Homo sapiens: one gene and its partners. The protein of the gene in region 7 purifies or fractionates together with the protein of the main gene of each other region. This does not show direct contact. Each region holds a gene or a part of one and is shown on either strand. Other genes may lie near its edges.

The links.
Region 1: the proteins of LYAR (region 7) and MYBBP1A purify together in Homo sapiens (affinity purification with mass spectrometry; 3 studies listed by BioGRID and IntAct, with this or other methods). This does not show direct contact.
Region 2: the proteins of LYAR (region 7) and GNL2 purify together in Homo sapiens (affinity purification with mass spectrometry; 3 studies listed by BioGRID and IntAct, with this or other methods). This does not show direct contact.
Region 3: the proteins of LYAR (region 7) and BRIX1 purify together in Homo sapiens (affinity purification with mass spectrometry; 2 studies listed by BioGRID and IntAct, with this or other methods). This does not show direct contact.
Region 4: the proteins of LYAR (region 7) and NPM1 purify together in Homo sapiens (affinity purification with mass spectrometry; 3 studies listed by BioGRID and IntAct, with this or other methods). This does not show direct contact.
Region 5: the proteins of LYAR (region 7) and REXO4 purify together in Homo sapiens (co-immunoprecipitation; 2 studies listed by BioGRID and IntAct, with this or other methods). This does not show direct contact.
Region 6: the proteins of LYAR (region 7) and DKC1 purify together in Homo sapiens (co-immunoprecipitation; 2 studies listed by BioGRID and IntAct, with this or other methods). This does not show direct contact.

What each region holds. Positions count from the first base shown.
Region 1 is NC_000017.11:4,548,885-4,552,384, reverse strand, and holds part of MYBBP1A (myb-binding protein 1A), read left to right. Parts: intron 1-92; coding exon 93-260; intron 261-387; coding exon 388-505; intron 506-2,031; coding exon 2,032-2,327; intron 2,328-2,942; coding exon 2,943-3,053; intron 3,054-3,500. UniProt on the Homo sapiens protein: May activate or repress transcription via interactions with sequence specific DNA-binding proteins. Repression may be mediated at least in part by histone deacetylase activity (HDAC activity).
Region 2 is NC_000001.11:37,582,438-37,585,937, reverse strand, and holds part of GNL2 (nucleolar GTP-binding protein 2), read left to right. Parts: intron 1-2,004; coding exon 2,005-2,071; intron 2,072-3,001; coding exon 3,002-3,160; intron 3,161-3,500. UniProt on the Homo sapiens protein: GTPase that associates with pre-60S ribosomal subunits in the nucleolus and is required for their nuclear export and maturation.
Region 3 is NC_000005.10:34,918,711-34,922,210, forward strand, and holds part of BRIX1 (ribosome biogenesis protein BRX1 homolog), read left to right. Parts: intron 1-1,129; coding exon 1,130-1,173; intron 1,174-3,500. UniProt on the Homo sapiens protein: Required for biogenesis of the 60S ribosomal subunit.
Region 4 is NC_000005.10:171,390,849-171,394,348, forward strand, and holds part of NPM1 (nucleophosmin), read left to right. Parts: intron 1-456; coding exon 457-576; intron 577-857; coding exon 858-951; intron 952-1,861; coding exon 1,862-1,968; intron 1,969-2,065; coding exon 2,066-2,130; intron 2,131-3,500. UniProt on the Homo sapiens protein: Involved in diverse cellular processes such as ribosome biogenesis, centrosome duplication, protein chaperoning, histone assembly, cell proliferation, and regulation of tumor suppressors p53/TP53 and ARF.
Region 5 is NC_000009.12:133,411,511-133,415,010, reverse strand, and holds part of REXO4 (RNA exonuclease 4), read left to right. Parts: coding exon 1-346; intron 347-366; exon of another isoform or gene 367-674; intron 675-2,089; coding exon 2,090-2,233; intron 2,234-2,518; coding exon 2,519-2,712; intron 2,713-3,500.
Region 6 is NC_000023.11:154,772,864-154,775,526, forward strand, and holds part of DKC1 (H/ACA ribonucleoprotein complex subunit DKC1), read left to right. Parts: intron 1-267; coding exon 268-386; intron 387-1,738; coding exon 1,739-1,842; coding exon of another isoform or gene 1,843-1,846; exon of another isoform or gene 1,847-2,331; coding exon 2,332-2,410; intron 2,411-2,663.
Region 7 is NC_000004.12:4,270,178-4,273,154, reverse strand, and holds part of LYAR (cell growth-regulating nucleolar protein), read left to right. Parts: intron 1-2,977. UniProt on the Homo sapiens protein: Plays a role in the maintenance of the appropriate processing of 47S/45S pre-rRNA to 32S/30S pre-rRNAs and their subsequent processing to produce 18S and 28S rRNAs. Also acts at the level of transcription regulation.

The DNA of each region.
Region 1 (3,500 bases), on a different chromosome or scaffold from region 7:
TTGTCGTTTGGCCTGGGGGTGTCCCGGCTGCTCTTGTCACCCTGGCCCTTGCCTGTGAGGCAAGTGTTCCCTGAGTCCCTTGCCCTCCGCAGGCTGGTGAATGTGCTGAAGATGGCCGCCTCCTCTGTGAAGAAGGACCGCAAGCTGCCCGCCATTGCTCTGGACCTGCTCCGCCTGGCACTCAAGGAAGACAAGTTCCCACGGTTCTGGAAGGAGGTGGTGGAACAAGGGCTGCTGAAGATGCAGTTCTGGCCAGCCAGGTGCGGGCGACGCGTGTCCTCTCTCGGCCCCCTTCCCTGTCCGTGAAGTGGGCTAGGCCACTAGTCCTGAGGTTCCCACCAGGGGCACCAAGGGCTCTGACCAGGCTCTGTCCTGCACCCCCTTTAGCTACCTGTGTTTCCGCCTGCTGGGCGCGGCCCTGCCCCTGCTGACCAAGGAGCAGCTGCACCTGGTGATGCAGGGAGACGTGATCCGCCATTACGGGGAGCACGTGTGCACTGCTAAGGTGGGTAATGCCCGTGCAGCTCGACACTGCCAGAAAGGCTAGACGTGGAGCTCTCCCTGCCAAAAAGGGGAGCAGGGCACCTCGGGGGCTTGGCTAGAGCTATGGGTGTCCCCTCCGTCTGGGTAGTGAGCTGCCTGAACCCCTTTCCCTCGGACAAATTTTTTTTTTTTGAGATGAAGTTTTGCTCTTGTCGCCCAGGCTGGAGCGCAGTGGTGAGATCTTGGCTCACTGCAACCTCCGCCTCCCAGGTTCAAGCGATTCTCCTGCCTCAGCCTCCTGAGTAGCTGGGATTACAGGCGCCCAATACCACGCCCAGCTAATTTTTGTATTTTTGGTAGAGACGGGATTTTGCCATGTTGGCCAGGCTGGTCTCGAACTCCTGACCTTAGGTGATCCACCCGCCTTGGCCTCCCAGAGTGCTGGGATTACAGACGTGAGCCACTGTACCTGGCTTCCCTCTGACAGTTTTGATAAAGTCAGGCCCTTCTGCCAGCAGGCCCCCTTGTGGGCATGGATAGCCAGCGGGCTGTTCAGACCTCTCTCCGCCCCCGCCCATGTGGCAGTGATGAGAACAGTCGTCATGACCATGTTTGGGCACCAGTGAGCCTGGTGCCCAGTAAGTGCTGCTGGGTTGACTGTTCTCACCAGCTCATTTTATCTTTGCAGTGAGTTTCAGAGAGCTGTCATTCTGGGTGAGGGGGAGACTTGAAGTATCAGGCAGTGGTTAAGAGCTTGGGTTGGATGGTGGTGCACACCTGTAGTCCCAGTTACTCGGGAGGCTGAGGTGGGAGGATCCCTTGAACCCAGAATTTTGAGGCTGCAGTGAGCCATGATCATGGCACTACATGCCAGGGGCACAAGTCTAAAAAATTGAAAGGAAAACAGCTTGGGCTGTGAAGCCGGACACTATCCCACTGGGAGCCTCTGACCCTGAGAAGTTACCTCTAGGTGTTTTTGTGTCTCACTGTACTCACCTGTGCAATGACAATATTGGCCAACCGCAAAGAGTTGCTAAAAATGCTAAGCTGCCGCCCAAAAAGGCGGAGCGCGGGTGCTGGCACTGAGTAAGCGCGTGAGAGGTGGTTGTTTTTGGTCCCGAAGATGACACGGCTAGGAATTGGCAGCGTGGGCTTTGAACCCAGGTCAGTCTCGCCTCCTAACTACCACTCTGCCCTGCGTTGAGCCAGGAAAACAGGCCATCCCCATCCAGCAAGGCGGAAAGAGGGGCCTTCTGGGGCCGGAGGTGCTGAAGCTGGGGCAGTCAGACCCACAGAGGCCTTGACGCCAGACAAAAGCACTGGGGTGACTGGACTGTTGCAAGTTCAGGCACAGCCTAGCTGTGTACAACAGGAGATTGCCGGGGCTCGATTTAACCTGTAGTGGGCACAAGCCTGGTGGGCTGTTGCCCGCCTGCCCCCGGGCTGTTGGGCTGTTGGGCTGTTGCCCGCCTGCCCCCTTGGCTGTTGGGTTGTTAACCGCCTGCCCCCCTGGGCTGGTGGGCTCAGCGCCATGCCTAACTCTTGCAGCTCCCAAAGCAGTTCAAGTTTGCCCCAGAGATGGACGATTACGTGGGCACCTTCCTAGAGGGGTGCCAGGATGACCCTGAGCGGCAGCTGGCCGTGCTAGTGGCCTTCTCATCTGTCACCAACCAAGGCCTCCCTGTCACGCCTACTTTCTGGCGGGTCGTGCGGTTCCTGAGCCCTCCGGCCCTGCAGGGCTATGTGGCCTGGCTGCGGGCCATGTTTCTCCAGCCAGACCTGGACTCCTTGGTTGACTTCAGCACCAACAACCAGAAGAAAGCCCAGGATTCATCGCTCCACATGTGAGTGGACCTTGGGGGAGGACACCTAATTTAGGAGTTAACTTCCTAGGCCTGCAGAGCCCCGCGACCCAAGCCCGCCCTCCACAGCGTCCTGGCTCTAAACCATGAGAGGAGCGAGGGGGAAGAGCCTTAGCTCTCATATGAGGCCTCAGTTTACTTGTGTGTCCCCACACTGGCGATCGGGATGGGGAGATCTTGGAGTGTTGTCTCTGAGATCAGGCAAAGGAATGTCCTGTTTTTGCTGGTTCTTTTTTTTTTTTTTTTTTTTTTTTGACAGAGTCTCACTCTCTGTGGCCTAAGCTGGAGTGCAGTGGCGTGTGATCTCAGCTCATTGCAACTTCTGCCTCCCGGGTTCAAGCAATCAAGTGATTCTCTGCCTCAGCCTCTCCAGTAGCTGGGACTACAGGCACCCGCCACCACACCCAGCTAATTTTTGTATTTTTAATGGAGATGGGGTTTCACCGTGTTGGTCAGGCTGGTCTCGAACTCCTGACCTCGAGTGATTGGCCAGCCTTGGCCTCCCAAAGTGCTGGGATTACAGGTGTGAGCCACTGGGCCCAGCCTGTTTCTGCCAGTTATAAGTGGCTCACATGACCTCGCCTCCTGCCCCGCTAGGCCTGAGCGAGCTGTGTTCCGGCTGAGGAAATGGATCATCTTTCGATTGGTGAGCATTGTGGACAGCCTGCACCTGGAGATGGAGGAGGCCTTGACTGAGCAGGTGGCCAGGTGCGAGCTGTGCTGGATTCCCAGCTTCCCATGGGCGTGTGGCCAAGGAATGGGGCCCCTTAACTCGTCCTAGTTTGCATCCCCTGGAGCCAGAAGCCTTTGGGTTGAGTCATCAGTGGGGGGCAGGCACAAGGGGACTTGGGAATTCCTCAGGAACCCGTGAAGGGAAGGGGCCCAGGAGGCACCCCAGCTGCAGGGGCCTAAAAGGTTCAGGTGTGCTCTGCGCGCCCTGCAGGCAGCTTTTGCACGTGGGAGGTGTCAGGGAAGCCTTCTGCCCCACACCTGCCTCGTCTGTGCCAGTGCAGAGCTGGGTGCTCACGTCACCCTCAACATGCACGGTTGCAAGAGGGGGCTGTCCCATGTTCGCAGGAGCAGTGACCTGACTTGGCCATGACCACACAGCCTCCCATCTGTTGGTTCCTTGAGAGGGGCACTGACTCTCTCTAG
Region 2 (3,500 bases), on a different chromosome or scaffold from region 7:
GCTGCCACATTGCTCTTGAGAAAGGGTTTAATTTCATTTCCCTTGGGCAGTGCTAGAAAGCTCTCATTCTCGTCCATCTCATGTCTCTTAAATGAAGTGGAGGTTTTGCTGTCTTAGTGAAGAGGCATTGTCCTTTGACTGCATCAGTGTTATTACCTCATTGCTATTGTCAGCCCATCTTCAAGCATTGGGCCACCTAGAGATAAAATGTCAAGCCATTTGAGGCCAAGCAAAAAGAGGCAGTGAGTTCATTTATTTGTTCTTAGAATTATTTGAACTTTCGTTGGCTTTGTATTCTGCCGATTTGAATTTTTCCTTCCGCAACAGGTATAGTAGGTAATGCAGTAAAGACAAAACTATTTTTGTTTACCTTGGGTAAATGTCCTAGAGACTAGTAAATAAACAGATTCTAAACCTTATCAGAAAAATACTGCTGTATATGGGAGCTATGGAGTATAGGTTGTGATTCAGGTCCTGCCAATTCCATTTTGTAATTCTCTGTGACATACTGCCTAATTCAGTCATGCTTTTTTTTAGTTTAATGTTTTATTGTGGTAAAATATATGTAACAAAAAATGTGGCCAGACGCAGTGGCTCACACCTGTAATGCTAGCACTTTGGGAGGCTGAGGCGGGCGGATCACCTGAGGTCAGTAGTTTGAGACCAGCCTGACCAACATGGTGAAACCCAGTCCCTACTAAAAATACACAAATTAGCTGGACGCAGGGGCGCACACCTGTAGTACCAGCTACTTGGGAGGCTGAGGCTGGGGAATCGCTTAAACCCGGGAGGCGGAGGTTGCAGTGAGCCAAGATCGCACCACTCATTCCAGCCTGGGCGACAGAGCGAGACTCCGTCTCAAAAAAAAAAAAAAAAAAGTACTCTTCTAACCATTTGATGTGATCTCGGCTCACTGCAATCTCTGCCTCCCGGGTTCAAGCGATTCTCCAGCCTCAGCCTCCCGAGTGGCTGGGATTACAGGTGCCCGCCACCACGTCTGGCTAATTTTTTTGTATTTTTAGTAGAGACAGGGTTTCACCATGTTGGTCAGGCTGGTCTCGAACTCCTGGCCTTATGATCCACTGCCTCAGCCTCCCAAAGTGCTGGGATTACAAGTGTGAGCCACTGTGCCCAGCTCTTCTAACCATTTTCAAGTGTACAGTTTAGTGATACTAAGTTCATTTACATTGTTGTGCAATCATTGCAGCTATCCATCTCCAGAACTTTTTCATCATCCCAAACTGAAACCCTGTACCCATTTAACACTAACGGTCCGTTTCCCCTCTCCCCCAGCCCCTGGTAACAACATTCTACTTTCTCTCTCATGAATTTGACTGGTTTAGGTGCCTAATATAAGTGGAATCATACAGTATTTGTCCTTTTGTGTCTGGCTTATTTCACTTAGCATAATGTCTTCAAGGTTCATTCGTGTTGTAGCAGGTGTCAGAATTTTCTTCTTCTTTTTTTTTTTTTTTTAATTAATTATTTTTTGAGACAGGGTCTTGCTCTGTCACCCAGGCTGGAGCAGTAGCCTGCTCATGGCTCACTGCAGCCTCAACCTCCTGGGCTCAAGGAGTTCTCCCACCCCAGTCTCCCCAGTAGCTGGGATTACAGGCATGCACCACTATGCCCAGCTAATTTTTGTATTTTTTGTGGAGATGGGGTTTTGCCATGTTGCCCAGGCTGGTCTCGAACTCCTGGGCTCAAGCAGTCTGCCCTCCTTGGCCTCCCAAAGTGCTGGAATTACAGGTGTGAGCCACTGAGCCAGCTGGAATTTCCTTCTTTTTTAAAGTTGAATGCTATCTTGTGTATATATGTGCCACATTGTGTTTATCCATTTATTTGTTGACAGACATTTGGGCACACTTTTTAAATTCAGTTTGTTTCTGGTCCATCTCCAACTGGGTTTGATACTGTTTTTTTTGGTACATTGACTTTACCCTAAAGCATCCTTTTAGTCTTGATGGTGCTTCAGTTGCTCATTTGGGGTGCTTTCTTATTTAGAAATGAAGCTCAAGAAGAGATCTATAAAAAGGGACAGTCCAAAAGAATATGGGGTGAGCTCTACAAGGTAAGACTCCTAAATTCTCTCCCATTGAGTGGTTCCTTGGGCTTTCATGATTTTGTAGAAGAAAACTAATTTTGATATATTGAAGCTCTGTTGCGCAGAGTACAGGCACCACTGCCTGTTCCATCCTCTTCCTCCTACAAAGAAACTCGGAAGGCGTACTACCATTGATCTAGGTAACTGCATTTTTTAAAGTACTTGTATAAGAGTAACAGCTATCTTTTATTATACAATCACATATTTATTACCTGTCAGTATTTTTTAAGATTTCCTGCCAAATTTATCATGCCTAGTTAAAGTCACATGCAACATTTTAAGTTATTTAGTCCACCCCTCTCCTTTTATCGATGAGGACTCCTGTCTAGAAAGGTTTAATGCTGTACCTAGCTCGACTAGCTTGTTAGTGAAGGAGGCTTTGTATATCTTGATTTCTGATCCAGTGATCTTTAACCGGCAGAGGTTTATGTCCATGCACTAATAATAACCTTCAGAAGAAAAATTTTCAAGTATAATCACGTAATTAAATAGTAACATGATAGGAAACTAGTACCGTGAAGGCAAGCTAAACTTTGTAGTTTTTTGTGAAATACACAAAACCTATAATATTACAAACTTAAAGATAATATTACAAACTTAAAGAAGTCTAAGAAGTAAATGATTTAGTTCAATAATCCATAGTAGTTAGGAAATAAGTTGAGTTTCATCTAAGCTAGTTTTTCTGTTTTAAATTCAGCAGGTTTCAAAAGCCACAGGATGAAAAACCTTTTGAATTCTGATCACTGGGCCTTGAGATTAGCCACAACGAACTCTGCCCAGAGACTGTTTTGAAGTTGTCTCTAAATATTATTATTTTATTTTTCCCAGACTCCCTTAAATGTCATCCCTCTTTTATTTGTACTGTAGCAAACCATTTTTGCCTTTCTGAATTTTCAGGTGATAGATTCATCAGATGTTGTAGTTCAAGTTCTTGATGCTAGAGATCCAATGGGTACTCGTTCCCCTCACATTGAAACTTACCTGAAGAAGGAAAAACCTTGGAAACACCTCATTTTTGTACTTAACAAATGTGACCTTGTTCCAACCTGGGCAACAGTAAGTACAACTACTAAACCAGAATAGACTATTAAGACATCTGTTAGTAAGTCAGTTGTAGGGCTTTTAGGCTAAAGTGTTGTCCGGCTGAGATTGTAGTAATGGGAGTGCTCTCATTGGAAACACGAAAGTGTGCTCATTGATAGTGGGCAGAGGCACCAGGAGACGGCTTCTGAGGCCACTGCCTGCTTCACATTATGCTCCATTAATTGCATTTAGTAACAATGAAGACATTTTTTGGAATATTGTTTTGTATTTATAAGACAGAAGAACAAAGCATTAACTGTTATACTTGGAAAAAACATTTCAAAGAATTATAGCTAACATTTTCCTTAGACAA
Region 3 (3,500 bases), on a different chromosome or scaffold from region 7:
TCTTGAAGGTCCAGGAATGCCTTCACTGTAATGCTTCTGAAGGTCCTGAGATAGGTGGGATGGTTTGTCCTAAGTGCTAAGGACTGCCACATGTTGCTTTTTGGGCCTTTTTTTTTTTTTTTTTAACTGTTTTTATTGAAAAATGGACCTGGGATAGAATTCAAAGCACTTTTTAAGTTGGAGTCAGAGCCTATTTCTAAATGCCAGGTTATTTATTTATTTTTAAGCAGTGGGTTATTTTACAGGCAAGAACAGTATGGCCGGGCATGGTAGCTCATGCCTGTAATCCCAGCACTTTGGGAGGCCGAGGTGGGTGGAACACTTGAGTCCAGGAGTTCCAGACCATCCTGGGCAACATGGTGAAACCCTGTCTCTACAAAATAAAAAAAAAAAAAAATGAAAAAAGTAAAGTAAATTAGCCAAGTGAGGGGGTCACTTGCCTGCAGTCCCAGCTACTCAGGAGTCTCAAGCAGGAGGATGGCTTGAGCCCAGGAGTTCAAGGCTGTCATGAGCCGTGATTGCGCCACTACATTTCAGCCTGGGCAAGGAGCAAGACCCTGTCTCAAAAAAAAAAAAAAAAAAAAAAAAAAGTTTGGAACAGTGGAGTGGCAGCGCCATCATATGGCTGTTGTTGTGCTTATGTTGAGAGGTGCTTTGGGGTTTTTTTGTTTTTTGTTTTTTATTTTTAAAATTTTAACTTATTTTAGATTCAAGGAGTATATGTGCAGGTTTGTTACACGGGCATAAAGTCAGTTTTCTTTGACACCTAAGATTAAAAAGTGAAAGATATTTTCATTGAAACTGGTTTCCTTTAACACAGTCTTTGGTTTGTGAGAATTTTCCCATTTTTGAAAAGGATTCCTAGAATACCTAAATATTGAGAAACACTGCTTACACTATAATTTCTAATTCTTACAGACTATATTTTACTTATTTTCTTTACATTTACAAAGAGTCAAGATTTTTGAGCGATTGTTTCCAGCTCTTGTTTTGAAAATTAGTAATAAAATCTCCTTTAAACTGAAGAGTGTAAAAACACTTTATTTTCTGGATAGCATATGTGGTTTGATTGAAATAACTTTGAAATCACCTTTAATTTACTTGCTTTTTCTTTTTTTTCTTTTTCTAGATACTAAAATGGATCGTAAGGATAAGCTATTTGTGATTAACGAGGTAATTTTGGAAAGTAATTGCAACAAAATATTTTTAAAATGTTAACAGTGGCTTATTTCAAAACTAAGTCATTCAGTGACTTTAAAAATTATTTTGTAAAAACTATTCAGACACATTTTATTAACTCTTCAATAACTGGTCTTCCAAATTTTTATCTCTCACAGTTTAGTGCTTCATTCATTTCTGTTTGTTTTGTCTGAACAAGCATATTGAAATTTCCTCAGGAGAAGGATTATGTCCCATTTTTTAACCCTGTAGTGTCTAGTATTATGCTAAATCCATAGTAGGTACTCAAAAAATTATCAGTCAACATATATAAAGTAAAATAAGTCCATTAAACATATATATATATAAAACCCACATGGTAAAAAGTGTTTTGCCAGTATTAAAAGTGATTTGTGTGGAACTGGCTATTAAGGTATTACAAACTGAATAGGTTACATTTTCAAAGTATTGTTTAAGATACTACACTTAGGTATTTTTTTTAACCTCTGGAAGCACAGAACATAAATTTACATTTTAAAGCAAAATTTTCAAAACTTAGAAGAATTAGGATCATTTTTTCACTATTAGCCTTCTTTAGAGCACAAATTTTTGAACCTCTGCTGTAATACCACATTATTCTATGTGCTGTAGAAACTGTTCAACAGAGCAATGTCCCTGTCATTATGGAACTTACATTCTAATGGAGACAGGCCATAAACAAGGTTTATAATTTCAAGTAAAGACAGGAGAAATAAAGCAGGTTATAGGTTTTGGACAGCTGAGGCTACACCGGAAAAACCTGTTCAAAGGGATGGTGTTTAATATTTGAGCAGAGACGTAGTGAAGGAGAAATATGGTAAAAGACCATCTAGCTAGAGAAAATGGCAACTACAAAAGCCCAGAAGTGGCACAAACTTCCTATTTTTGTGTTTATTCTAAGACCAGTAAGAAACAAAAGTTTTGTTTTTTTTTTTTAAGTTGTTAGGGTTTGTTTATTTGTTTAACTGGTTTTGGAGACAAAAGTCTCTCTCTGTTACCCAGGCTGGAGTGAAGTGGTATGATCTCAGCTCACTGCAGCCTCTGCTTCCTGGGTTTAAGCAATTCTCCTGCCTCAGCCTCCCGAGTAGCTGGGACGACAGGCACACGCCAGTATGCCCAGCTAATTTTTTGTATTTTTAGTAGAGATGGAGCTTTGCCAGGTTGCTCAGACAATTCACCTACCTCGGCCTCCCAAAGTGCTGGGGTTATAGGCATGAGCCACCTCATCCAGCCATAAGTTGTTAGGTTTAAAGTCTTAAATAATGTGGAGTTTAAGAGTACTATATTAATTAGAGTTTATGAATACTACAGTAATACAAGCCTTCACTCCTGTAATGTTTTTGTGTCTTCTCAAGTGTGACTTTTGTAAGCCTTCAAGACATTGAAGTTTAATTTGAAATAGGTTTGATATACTTAGGCTTTTCACCCAATCCCTTAGTGATTTTATAGAACCAAATCACCAGAAATGATAGTATAAATGAAGAACAACTTAAGTTTTGTGATCTTAGAATCAAAAAGCTAAAAAGTTAAAAATCAAAATAATCATTAAAAAGGATGTTTTTAGTTCTATAAGTACTGCATTTTCATAAGATTGGCTAAGAAGATTGATTATGAAGGATTAACATAAGAAGATTAGTTGTGGTATGCTTTATCCGTAGGGCATCTATTTTTAGTCTTTGTAGTTTGTCAATGGGACTATGGGCAGAAGAGGTTCCTGGCCAGGTGAGGTGGCTCACACCTGTAATCCCACCACTTTGGGAGGCTGAGGCAGGCAGATCACCTGAGGTTGGGAGTTCAAGACCAGCCAGACCAACATGGAGAAACCCCATCTCTACTAAAAATACAAAATTAGCGGGGTGTGATGGCACAGGCCTGTAATATCCCGGCTACTCCGGAGGCTGAAGCAGGAGAATCATTTGAACCTGGGAGGTGGAGGTTGCGGCGAGCCGAGATCGTGCCATTGCACTCCAGCCTGGGCAACAAGAGCGAAACTGCATCGCAAAAAAAAAAAAAAAAAAAAGGAGGGAGGTTTCCAGTAATCAGAAGTGAGACCATTTTAGATGCTAGGCCCAAAAATATGATAGATAATTTCACCCAAGATATGGGCAGAGCATCTAGTTTACCTTGGGTAGAATACCTAAGAGGAACTTTAAAGGTTCCTTCTGTGAATAAATACATGTTTAGGCCTTTGTAGCCTATTAGCCTGGTTAGGTATTTTTGAGATAATCTGGATGATATTAATCACATATAATTACTTTAGTTCTCATTTATATTATCTACTTCATTTTCCTATACTTTGCTTC
Region 4 (3,500 bases), on a different chromosome or scaffold from region 7:
AGTAGCTGGGATTACAGGCATGTGCCACCACACCTGGCTAATTTTTGTGTTTTTAGTAGAGACGAGGTTGTTACCATGTTGTCCAGGCTGGTCTCAAACTCCTGACCTCATGATCTGCCCGCCTCAGCCTCCCTAAGTGTTGGGATTACAGGCATGAGCCACCAAGCCCGGCCCTTTCCTATGCTTAGATGCACAAATACTGTGTTTCGGTTGCTTACAGTATTCAGTACAGTAACACTGTACAGGTTTGTAGCCTAGGTGTGTGTAGTAGGCTATACCATCTAGGTTTGTATAAGCACATTCTTATGATTGTACAAAGATGAAATTGTCTAACAACACATTTCTCAGAACCTAGCCCTGTGGTTAAGTGACGCATGGCTGCATATAACATTTAGTGGGGGGGTGTAAAATAGGTGGAACTCAAAAGTTGAAGTAGTATTTTTTTTTTGTTCACAGGTCAGTTTAGGGGCTGGTGCAAAGGATGAGTTGCACATTGTTGAAGCAGAGGCAATGAATTACGAAGGCAGTCCAATTAAAGTAACACTGGCAACTTTGAAAATGTCTGTACAGCCAACGGTAAGGGCACTTACATACTTTGGATGTTGTGTCAAGGTTTAATTCTGTTTTAAGGTAGGTTTGGTGTCATTTAGTTGTGCCAAGGAGATAGAAAGTGGTTCTTTATCTTCTGTCACTGGAGTTCGATGGTCAACTCTTGAACATGGGGGCTTCTGCTGCTACTTTTATCAGAGGTGGAAAAACAGGTTCACTGGTTTGTTGATTTGGCTTATGTGTTTGCCTGTAATGTTTATTGTTCATTTTCTTCACATGTTTAGTGATGAAAAATTTCTCCCTTCTAGGTTTCCCTTGGGGGCTTTGAAATAACACCACCAGTGGTCTTAAGGTTGAAGTGTGGTTCAGGGCCAGTGCATATTAGTGGACAGCACTTAGTAGGTATGTTATTTTTATATATTATACTACTTAGTTTGTCCTCTTTAGTGCAGTTGCTTGGTTCCCAGTTTGGACTTAAAGCATGGGTATAGTACTACTGTCTTTTTAATAGGTTCCAATGTGAGTCTAGAAATTGGAGAGGACAAATAAATTTTTGGGGCGGGGGGGAGAGGAAATCTTGCTGTCACCCAGGCTAGAGTACAGTGGCACGATCTTGGCTCACTGGAACCTCTCCGGGATTCAAGCGATCCTCCTGTCTCAGCCTCCCCAGTAGCTGGGGCCACAGACGTGCACCACCAAGTCCAGTTGCGTTTCATAGTTATAGTAGAGAAGGGGTTTCGTGATGTTGGCCAGGCCGATCTTGAACTCCTGGCCTTAACGTGATCTGCACGCCCTGGCCTCTCAAAGTGCTAGTATTACACGTGTCAGCCACTGTGCCTGGCCTAAAAATTATTTTTTAATAAAGACAGTCTCATTATAACGGCTGGAGTGCAGTGATGTGATCATAGCTTGCTATATCCTCGAACTGCTACTGGGTTCACCTCAGCCTCTGGAATAGCTAGAACTACAGGCACACTCCACGCCTGGCTAATTTTTTTTGTATATGTGCAGATGGGGTCTCAGTATGTTGCCCAGATTGGACTCTTGGCCTCAAGTGGTCCGCCTTGGCCTCCCCAAAGTGAGATTACAGGCATGAGCCACCCTCCCCAGGCTTCTTGCATTTAAAACCTGGCAGTGAACATTAGGCCTCAAAATACTTTTGTTAAAAAGTTCCTTTTCCCATGTGCTCTTTTTTTTTTTTTTTTTAAATAGAATAGAAGTCTCAGTTTTTAGAGTATTTACTATCAGTGTTCTTTTTTTTTCTGACTTCTTGCTGCTTGAGTTTTATAATGTCTAATAAATTGTATTTTAGCTGTGGAGGAAGATGCAGAGTCAGAAGATGAAGAGGAGGAGGATGTGAAACTCTTAAGTATATCTGGAAAGCGGTCTGCCCCTGGAGGTGGTAGCAAGGTTCCACAGGTAGAGATGGCAATTTTATTATAGGTTTTGTATTATAGCTTTTAGTTTGGTGATAGAACAGCTCTTGTTCATGAGTACGTATCTTTTCTTTTAAAAGAAAAAAGTAAAACTTGCTGCTGATGAAGATGATGACGATGATGATGAAGAGGATGATGATGAAGAGTAAGTATGATTTTAGAAACTTGATATACTTCCGGAATCTTGACAAAAAAAGGAATTTGACATAGTTATATGCATGAGGGTTTTATAAAAGTCATTTACAAAAAGCCATCCTATGTAATAGTTTATAATAAAAGGGCAGGTGGTCATCTGTTGTCAGTTTAAGTTAAATGAGCTGAGTTGAAAGGATATTGGGTCTGTGAGCCTTTACAATGCTGTGACTTGTGACTCTTCAGAAGGGTAGACTATAGTGTTTGTGAAGTTTGATTATGTCCCTTTGTTCTGAAGATTTAGTGGATGTGTTATACCCATCAAGCCTGGTATGTTTTATGGTGAGCAGTTAATGAGATTGGGTTGAAAGAAAATATGATTAAATAGCTCTATATTCATTTTACAAGTTGTTACTCAAGGTTTGTTATTCCCTAAAAGGATTTTGTCTTATGGTTTTATGTAGATATTTATTGACAAAAATAAGATTCTAAAAGGGATATTAAGATTTTCTTGGGATTTAAAATATGGTTGGAAACAATATTTGATGACTTTATATTAAACTAGATCAAACTATTGTTACAAACAGTTAATACGCACACTGGTATAAAGTACTGTTTATAATTGGTCTTATGTGTGCCAGTACCAGTAATGCATTGAATACTTTGATTTGGCTCTCAGCTTTGTCCTTCAGTTCTGAGGTTGGTCCATATGCATTTATTGAAAACAAATATAAGAACATGCACTTTAAAAGAGAACCTGCATGAAAGATCAAATTGGGAGTTTAGGTTTTAAGCTGGTGGTTCTTCAAAATCTTTGAGCATGACGATGAAGGCAGAAAACAGGAAAAAGGCCGAAAGAGCCGAAAGCTTAAAAATTCAAAGTATGACCAGGCGCAGTGGTTCACACCCGTAATCCTAACACCCAGCCAAGATGAGAGGATCTCTTGAGGCCAGCCCGGTCAAAATAGCAAGACCCAATCTCAAAAGAAAAATAAAAATTCAAAGTACTTGCATGTCAAACTTATAAATGAACGCAAACTTAAAGGTAGTATTTGACTGTTGCTGTTTTTGTTTTCTTTTTTTTTTTTTTTTTTTTTGAGATGGAGTCTCCAGTTGCTCAGGCTGGAGTGCGGTGGCGCCATCTCGGCTCACCACAACCTCTGCCTCCTGGGTTCAAGCGATTGTCCTGCCTCAGCCTCCCGGGTAGCTGGGACTGCAGGCTCGGGGCACCATGCCCTGCTAATTTTTGTATTTAGTAGAGACAGGGTTTCAGTATGTTGGTCCGGCTGGTCTTGAACTCCTAACCTCGTGATCTACCTGCCTCGGTCTCCCAAAGTGCTGGGATTGCAGATGTGAACCACTGCGCCCAGCCAAATTTTTGTA
Region 5 (3,500 bases), on a different chromosome or scaffold from region 7:
GGCTGCTGAAACAAAAATCTCAGGCCCCAGAAAAGCCTCTTGTCATCTCTCAGATGGGTTCCAAAAAGAAGCCCAAAATTATCCAGCAAAACAAAAAAGAGACCTCGCCTCAAGTGAAGGGAGAGGAGATGCCGGCAGGAAAAGACCAGGAGGCCAGCAGGGGCTCTGTTCCTTCAGGTTCCAAGATGGACAGGAGGGCGCCAGTACCTCGCACCAAGGCCAGTGGAACAGAGCACAATAAGAAAGGAACCAAGGAAAGGACAAATGGTGATATTGTTCCAGAACGAGGGGACATCGAGCATAAGAAGCGGAAAGCTAAGGAGGCAGCCCCAGCCCCACCCACCGAGTAAGTATGGGCCACCTCACCACTGAGAACCGAGGCACAGCGACTTCACCAAGGCCTGTCTCCTTATGGAGGCTGGTGGCCTCACCGCAGTCTCTCCATCACTTTACCCTGATGTCGTCTGTTCCTTTGTTTACTCGCTGTTACTTGTTTTCCCCTAGAGTGTGCGCATGATAAGGCAGGGCCTGCTTCTTCCGAGCGTTGAGCAGAGCTCAGCATTTAGTGGGTGCCAGTACACGTGTGTGGAAGGAAAGCGTGCTGAAGCCAGAAAGACCCAAGTATGAGGCCTGTCCCTGCTTCTCGCCAGTTGGGTGGTTTGGGGCAAGTTTCTGACGTCCTCTGTGCCTTGTGGTAGTCATGGTGGCATCATAAGGAGATTGTGAGGTTGGCACTCTTGGCTCAGTGCCTGGTGATTACTTCAACCCTGTGATGGAGCCAGGTGTGGTGGCTGTTGCCTGTGATCCCAGCTCCTTGGGAGGCCAAGGTGGGAGGATCACTTGATCCCAGGAGGTTGAGGCTGCAGTGAGCTGTGATTGCACTACTGCCTCCAGCCTGGGTGACGGAGCAAGACTCTCAAAAAAACAAGTGAAAAGAATAAACCCTGTGCTGGCCACCCACGTGGGGTGGACCGGGAGTCAGTGGCCTTCTCTGAATGGTTCAGCTGGAGGTGACGTGTTCATAAGTTACAGCTGGCTTCATGTTGCCTGGGTGTTCAGGACACAGTCGCTGATGGCTGAGGAATGAGCCATTTGGGGGCCTCCCTGTGTTGTGCTAGGCAGGCTGTCTGGGATAGAGTTCAGTGAGGTGGGCCTGCTCCTCCCTCTTGAGGCTTATTGTCAAGTGCAGTAGACAGACTGTAAACTGCAGCTGTTGATTAAGTGTGGTCAGGATAAATCTAGTGAGGAGAAGGTATTGGGCGCCTGGAACAAGAGGGACGTGTCCATTCAGTGGGGCCAGGAATGGCTTTTCTAAGGAAATGACATTTAACCTTAGCCCAAGAGACAGATTCCCCAGGCAGGTGTTACGTGCCTGTGTGAGCTTCCTAGTACGGAGGGCAAGGGGTTCTGTGTTTCCATCTTACAGGCATTCTGTCTGTCTGTTTCCTAAGTGTTCAATAATGAACGTGTTACCTTCATAATTAAAATGTTAGCACTCATTACACTTGGGTGGTGGGTTATGTGTTTCTGTTTTATATTCTTTGTGTTTGTCTGTGTTCCTAAATCTTGAATAATGAGTGTATTTTCTAATTAAAAAGAAAAGAGATGAGGCCAGGTGCTGTGACTCACACCTGTAATCCCAGCTCTTTGGGAGGCCGAGGCAGGTGGATCACTTGAGGTCAGGAGTTCAAGACCAGCCTGGCCAACATGACGAAACCCCGTATCTACTGAAAATACAAAAAATTAGCCAGGCGTGGCAGTGGGCGCCTGTAAAATCCCAGCTACTAGGGAGGCTGAGACAAGAGAATCACTTGAACCTGGGAGGCAAAGGTTGCAGTGAGCCAAGATCATGCCACTGCACTCCAGGTTGGGTGACCCAGTGAGACTCCATCTCAAAAAAAAAAGGAAAATGCCAAGATGATCAAAATAGCAGAAGCAGCAGGGCCAGCAGTCGGGGTGTCTGGGGCCAGCCTGTGGGAGAGGCAGGCTGTGCCATCGCTCCACTCACCTGCACAGTCAGCCCCACAGCCCCACCCCACCAGTTGCACTAGGGTCTTCTGGTGATCAGCCTGTTATCTTTGCCTTTTAGGGAAGACATCTGGTTTGACGACGTGGACCCAGCGGATATCGAAGCTGCCATAGGTCCAGAGGCGGCCAAGATAGCGAGGAAACAGTTGGGTCAGAGCGAGGGCAGCGTCAGCCTCAGCCTCGTGAAAGAGCAGGCCTTCGGCGGGTACGCTGGTCTCAGGGAGTGGGGTCTGCTGGGGATGCTTAGCCGTGGAGGGCGGGGCTTCTTCAAGGAAGAGGATGCTTTCCTCTCCCTGAGGTGAATGAGGCAAGCACCTCCCAGGGTCCTGCTAAGAACCAGGACCACACAGAGCTTGTCACGTGGGTGCAAATGAGTGAGGGGCAGAGAGCTTTTCTCTGCTGACACTTAGTCCATGGATCCCTGGGGCTCTGACCTGGAGCCCTGTGGCCTGCCGTGTTTATTAAACTACAGCCTTTGGTTACCCTTCAGCCTGACAAGAGCCTTAGCCTTGGACTGTGAGATGGTGGGCGTGGGCCCTAAGGGGGAGGAGAGCATGGCCGCCCGTGTGTCCATCGTGAACCAGTATGGGAAGTGCGTTTATGACAAGTACGTCAAACCAACCGAGCCCGTGACGGACTATAGGACAGCGGTCAGTGGGATTCGGCCTGAGAACCTCAAGCAGGGTATGTCATCCACAGCTCAGGAACTTAGAAGGGAAAGTAGTAACTGGATTCGTTTTCTCCCTTTTGTTCCCTTTTCTGTCTGAGACCACTCACTGCAGCTGGTTTTGATGCGTCTTGTCTCCTTTTGGGGCGATGGGTTTTAAAATACAAAAGGCATCCTTAGACGGCTTTACACCCATTTATGCCTTGCACTTCATTGCCTCCTGTCCGCTGACTTCAAGACCAGGCCAGTAGCTGGGCACGGTGGCTCATGCCTGTAGTCCCAGCTACTCAGGAGGCTGAGGAGGGAGGATTGCTTGAACCCAGGAGTTCAAGTCCAGCCTGGACAACATAGCGAGACCTCATTTCTAAAAAAAATTATTATTTTTTTTTGAGATGGAGTTTTGCTCTTGTTGCCCAGGCTGAAGTGCAATGGCACAATCTGGGCTCACTGCAACCTCCGCCTCCTGGGTTCAAGCGATTCTCCTGCCTCAGCCTCCCGAGTAGCTGGGATTACAGGCATATGCCACCACACCCGACTAATTTTGTATTTTAAGTAGAGACAGGGTTTCTCCACATTGGTCAGGCTGGTCTTGAACTCCCGAACTCAGGTGATCCGCCTGCCTCCGCCTCCCAAAGTGCTGGAATTACAGGCATGACCCACTGCACCTGGCCTTCTAAAAAATATTTTTAAAAAATTAGCTGGTCCCACTTGGCTCGGGCCACCCTTGGTCTAATCACCCCTGTTCGGGGGGTACAAGTGGGGTTGGTGGTGGGGTGGTCCCCAGAAGCAGGCAAGGCTGCCTCTG
Region 6 (2,663 bases), on a different chromosome or scaffold from region 7:
TCTTGAGCTGCAAGCCTGTTATGTGTATCGTTAGGTGCTTTGGTTAGGTGTTTTTTAACTTCAGAAGTTTAACGTCATTTCAAAGGCCTCCTTCTCATAATGGAGTATTTCCTCCATATGCACATCCTGAGCAAAGGTAACCCCAATTAAAGTAGTAGCTCAGAGTTTTAAAAGTTTTAAAGTGGCATACAACAGTAGAATTGGGGCTCATCAATTATCAATTCTTTCACCCTTCAAATAATTCTTTTCTTTATTCAATGCCTGTAGCTATTGCATTAATGACCACAGCGGTCATCTCTACCTGCGACCATGGTATAGTAGCCAAGATCAAGAGAGTGATCATGGAGAGAGACACTTACCCTCGGAAGTGGGGTTTAGGTCCAAAGGTAAGTGGTACTGGGTTGCGTGCCCTGCCAGGTTCTTTTTTTTTTTTTTTTTTTTTTAAATTTATTTTTTTATTGATAATTCTTGGGTGTTTCTCACAGAGGGGGATTTGGCAGGGTCATGGGACAATAGTGGAGGGAAGGTCAGCAGATAAACAAGTGAACAAAGGTCTCTGGTTTTCCTAGGCAGAGGACCCTGCGGCCTTCCGCAGTGTCTGTGTCCCTGATTACTTGAGATTAGGGAGTGGTGATGACTCTTAAGGAGCATGCTGCCTTCAAGCATCTGTTTAACAAAGCACATCTTGCACCGCCCTTAATCCATTTAACCCTGAGTGGACACAGCACATGTTTCAGAGAGCACAGGGTTGGGGGTAAGGTCACAGATCAACAGGATCCCAAGGCAGAAGAGTTTTTCTTAGTGCAGAACAAAATGAAAAGTCTCCCATGTCTACTTCTCTCCACACAGACACGGCAACCATCCGATTTCTCAATCTTTTCCCCACCTTTCCCGCCTTTCTATTCCACAAAACCGCCATTGCCATCCTGGCCCGTTCTCAATGAGCTGTTGGGCACACCTCCCAGACGGGGTGGCGGCCGGGCAGAGGGGCTCCTCACTTCCCAGTAGGGGCGGCCGGGCAGAGGCGCCCCTCACCTCCCGGACGGGGCGGCTGGCCGGGCGGGGGGGCTGACCCCCCCCCACCTCCCTCCCGGATGGGGCGGCTCCTGCCAGGTTCTTTTGTTTGGCATTGTTGAATACTTGGGCAGCTCTTGGTGTGTTTCACCACCACAGCCTTGTATTGTGCTGGGCTCTGGGTTGTCGATGAGTGGAAACAGGCCCTGTCTTGGGCCTTAGAGATTTCAGTCTAATGAGGGGAAACAGTTGGGCATTACTCACGTAATCACACAGTGGAATGGCGAATTTCATGCACGTTAGTGGCTACCAAGGAGTGCAGAGAGGTGTCTGTCACCTGGAGTGTCCACAGTGGTCAAGGAGTCTGGTCAAGGGATTGTCTGTTAAGCCACACCGGTGTGAAGAGTGGGTTAGGTGTTGGTGAAGTGAAGAGGGGAGGGGAGAGTTCAGGGCATTGGGAGCAAGCAGCATGTGCAAAGGCAAAAAAGTAGAGTGGCTGCGGTGGGGACGTTATGTCTGCAGAGGCTCTCACTAATAAGCTTTGTGATCTTCAACAAGTCCTGTGTGTGTTGGAGTTAGTGGGCAAATTCTGAATGCTCTGGAGAGGAGTTTGAGGCCCTGCTGAGAATACACCAGGGAGGAACCTTGTTCTATTCTTTGTAGTCACCATGCCCGCTTCCAGCATTGACACCATTCTAATGTTGACACCTTGATGTTCCACCAGGCAAGTCAGAAGAAGCTGATGATCAAGCAGGGCCTTCTGGACAAGCATGGGAAGCCCACAGACAGCACACCTGCCACCTGGAAGCAGGAGTATGTTGACTACAGGTGAGGGCAGGATGTTTCAGAGCCGGGGTGGGTAGAGACGGCACACTTGCTGCCTTGATGCAGGAGTATGTCAACAACAGGTGAGGATGGGAAGGTAGAGCCCACTTGCCATCTGGACGCAGGAGTACATGGACAACAGGTGAGGAACAGGTGAGCATGGAGGTTGTAGAGCCCAGGGGAGGGGGAGTCACTTGGTTTGGGGCAAACTTGCTAAATGCAGGACCACAGGAACCAGCTCTTCAGCTCCCGTGAGATTTTGGCTGCCCAGGCCAGTTAGGGGTGTGGGCCTGCACGGCAGACAGTTATCCCTTTCTAGTCTGGCTCGTGGGACTCTAGAGGGAGTCAGTCTGCAACAGTAAGTGGTGAGTTCTTCTGTCCAGCGTCAGTATTTTGATGGTGGCTTTAGACTTGCCAGATAACACTACATAACATCAGTACTGCCCTGGAAAGCCATTCAGTGAATTTGACCTATTGCTACCTCTTTTTCAGTGAGTCTGCCAAAAAAGAGGTGGTTGCTGAAGTGGTAAAAGCCCCGCAGGTAGTTGCCGAAGCAGCAAAAACTGCGAAGGTGAGTGGCATGCTGTCCTCAGTTTGGAATGTGCTTAGGGAGATAATCCTAAGAGGCACTGGCATTCGTCTTACTTTGTGACTGTCCGCAGTCCAGCCATATACGCTAGCATCAGAGGTGCAGCGCATACACAGGTAATGCTGCCTCATACCCTGGGGTGCTTGTTTGGGCTCTGCAGGCTCCTCTGATTTGTATTCTCTGTCCTATCTGCTGGGAGGAGGAATGTGGGCTCAGGAATCAGATGGGCCTCGAC
Region 7 (2,977 bases):
GCTTTCTGAGACCCGGTTCCCTTTCGCTCCTCCCCAACTCTCTTGCCCCTGCCTTTCACTGTTCTCTTAGAAGTCCCCTGAACTGTGCCCCTGCCCATCTCTGGGCCTGTTTCTGGGGTCTCCTTGCTTGTATCCTCAACCTCAGAATCCAGTCCCTGGCCTTCACGGGCCCTCTGAAATGCTGTCTCTTACACAAAGCTTCTCTCCTGCTTCTTCAGGCCTGAAGCACTCATACCTGTCGGGAGGTGGCAAGTCGTCATCTCTCTGCCACCTCCCCCAACCCCCAGGATCCTGCAGTTCAGAACAGGTCCAAAGACTCAAATGGGCCTGCAGCTTTATTAGCAGAGTTCAGTGACTGCCAGCATTGGGTTAGATCTCTAAGCTTAAAACCCCCTTCTCAACTTAGTAAACAGTAGTGTCCCCATATCTGTGGGATGGAAAATTCCAGAAATAAACAATTGATAAGTTTTCCATTGCATGCTGTTCTGAGCAGCATGGCGAGATCTCTTGCTGTCCTGCTGTATGCCTTCTTCACCACAAGAAGGGTGAGGATAGGACAATAAGATATTTAGAGAGACACAGAGAGACCACATTCACATAACTTTTATTATAGTGTATTGTAAAATTGTTCTATTTTATTATTAGTTATTGATAATCTTTTACTGTGCCTCATTTATAAGTGGAGCATTGTCATAGGCATGAATGAATATTTAGGGAAAGACAGTATATATAGGGGTTCAGTACCATTGTGATTTCAGGCATCCACTGGGGGTCTGGGAACTGTCCCCTGCAGATCAAGGGGGACAACTGGAATGGTTATTTTTGTTGTTGTTGTTACATTTTTTGTTTTGAGATCCTTGTAGACTCACATGCAGTTGTAAGAAATAATGGAGACTCAGGCGTCCTTATGTATCCGCGTACCCTTTACCTTGTTGCCACCCAGGATAACACTTTACACAACTGTAGTACAGCATCTCAGCCGGGATGTTGACATGGATACGCTTCCATTTCCATCGCCATTGCGCAAGGCTGCCTCCTGCTGCCCTCTTGTAGCCACAGCCACTTCCCTCTCACCCCCACCCCCTCCTTAGCCTCTGGCAATCACTAATCTGTTCTTCATTTCTGGAATCTCCGAATGTTCTATGAATGGAATCATACAGTATGTAACCTTTTGAGACTGACTCTTCGCTCAGCGTTTTTCTCTGGAGATTCACCCAGGTTGCTGAACTGACCAATATTCATCTTATTGGTGAGGAGTATCCCGTGCTGTGCGTGCATCACAGTCCTTTCATCATTCACCTGTGGAGGGACACCTGGGTGGTTTCTAGTCTCTGGTTATTAATGAATAAAGCTGCAGTAAACATTGATGTGCAGGTTTCTGTGTGAACTAAGTCAGTTTTTCTGAAGCGAATGTTCAATGCTGTGTCATACAGTAGTTGCATATTCTTTCTTTTCTAAGAAACCACCAGCTCAATAACTAATGCTGGCGAGGATGTGGAGAAAAAGGAACGCTGGTGCACTGTTGGTGGGAATGTAAATTAGTACAACCACTATGGAGAACCGCTTGGAGGTTCCTCAGAAACCTAAGAATAGAGCTCCCGTCCAATCCAGCAGCCCCACTGTTTGGGTATATATTCAGAAGAAAGGAAATCCCTGTGTTGAAGAGATACCTGCACTCCCGTGTTTGTTGCAGCACTATTTACAATAACCAAGATTGGAGCAACCTATGTGTCCAGCAGCAGATGAATGGGTAAAGAAAATGTGGTGCATGTACACAGCGGAGTACTATTCAGCCATAAAAAGAATGAGATCCTGTCGTTTGCAGCAACGTGGATGGAACTGGAAGTCATTATGCTAAGTGAAATAAGCCAAGCACAGGAAGACAAGCATAGCATGTTTTCACTTATTTGTGGGATCTAAAAATCAAAACAGTTGCCAACTCATGGAGATAGAGAGTAAAAGGATGGTTACCAGAGACTGGAAAGGGTGGTGGGAGGCTGTGGGAGAGGTGGGGATGGTTAATGGGTATCAAGAAAATAGAATGAATAAGATCTAGTATTTCATAACACAACAGGGTGGCTGTAGTCAATAATAATTTAATTGTACATTTTAAAATAACTAGAGTATAATTGGATTGTTTGTAACACAAAAGGATAAATGCTTGAGGTGATGGATACCCCATTTACTCTGATGTAAGTATCATACATTGCATGTCTGTATCAAAATATCTCACGTGCCCCATATACACCTGCTGTGTACCCACAAAAATTTAAAAAGGAAAAAACTGTCAGCTGTTTCAGGAGTCTCTGTACACATTTTATATTCCCAGTAGCAGTGTGTAAAGGATCTAGTTTCTCCACATCATGGTCAATATTAGGCGTTGCCACTGTGTTGTATTTTCGCCATTCTGATAGATGTGTGGTAACCGCTCATTGTGGTTTGAATTTGTGTGGCCCTAATGACTAATGTTGTTGAGCACCTTCTTCTGTGCATATTTGCTATCTGTATATGTTTTTGTTGAAATGTCTGCTCTCTTTTTTTAAATTTTTTTCCCCTATTTTCTAATTTGAGTTGTTTGGGGTTTTTTTGGTTGTTGTTTTTGTGGGTTTTTTTTTTTTTTAACTGTTGAGATTTTAGTTTTTAAATTTATTCTAAATAGTACTCCTTTGTGGGACATAACAGTTTGTGAATTTTTTTTCAGTCTTTTTGCTTGTTTTTTCATCATAACAGAGTCTTTTTAGGGCAAATGGTTTTTATTTTGATAAAGTTCAATTTATCAATTTATCTTATGGATTGTGCTAACAACTCTTTACCTAGCCCTAGAGCCTAAAGATTTTTTTGTTTTCTAAATTATCTTAATGGATAACTTTTTTTTTTTTTTTTTTTACAAATCAACATTTTATGTAGTTCAGGTGTACAATTTAATGTGTTACTGTATTTTATTTTTATTTTTCGAGACAGGGTCTCACTGTTGCCC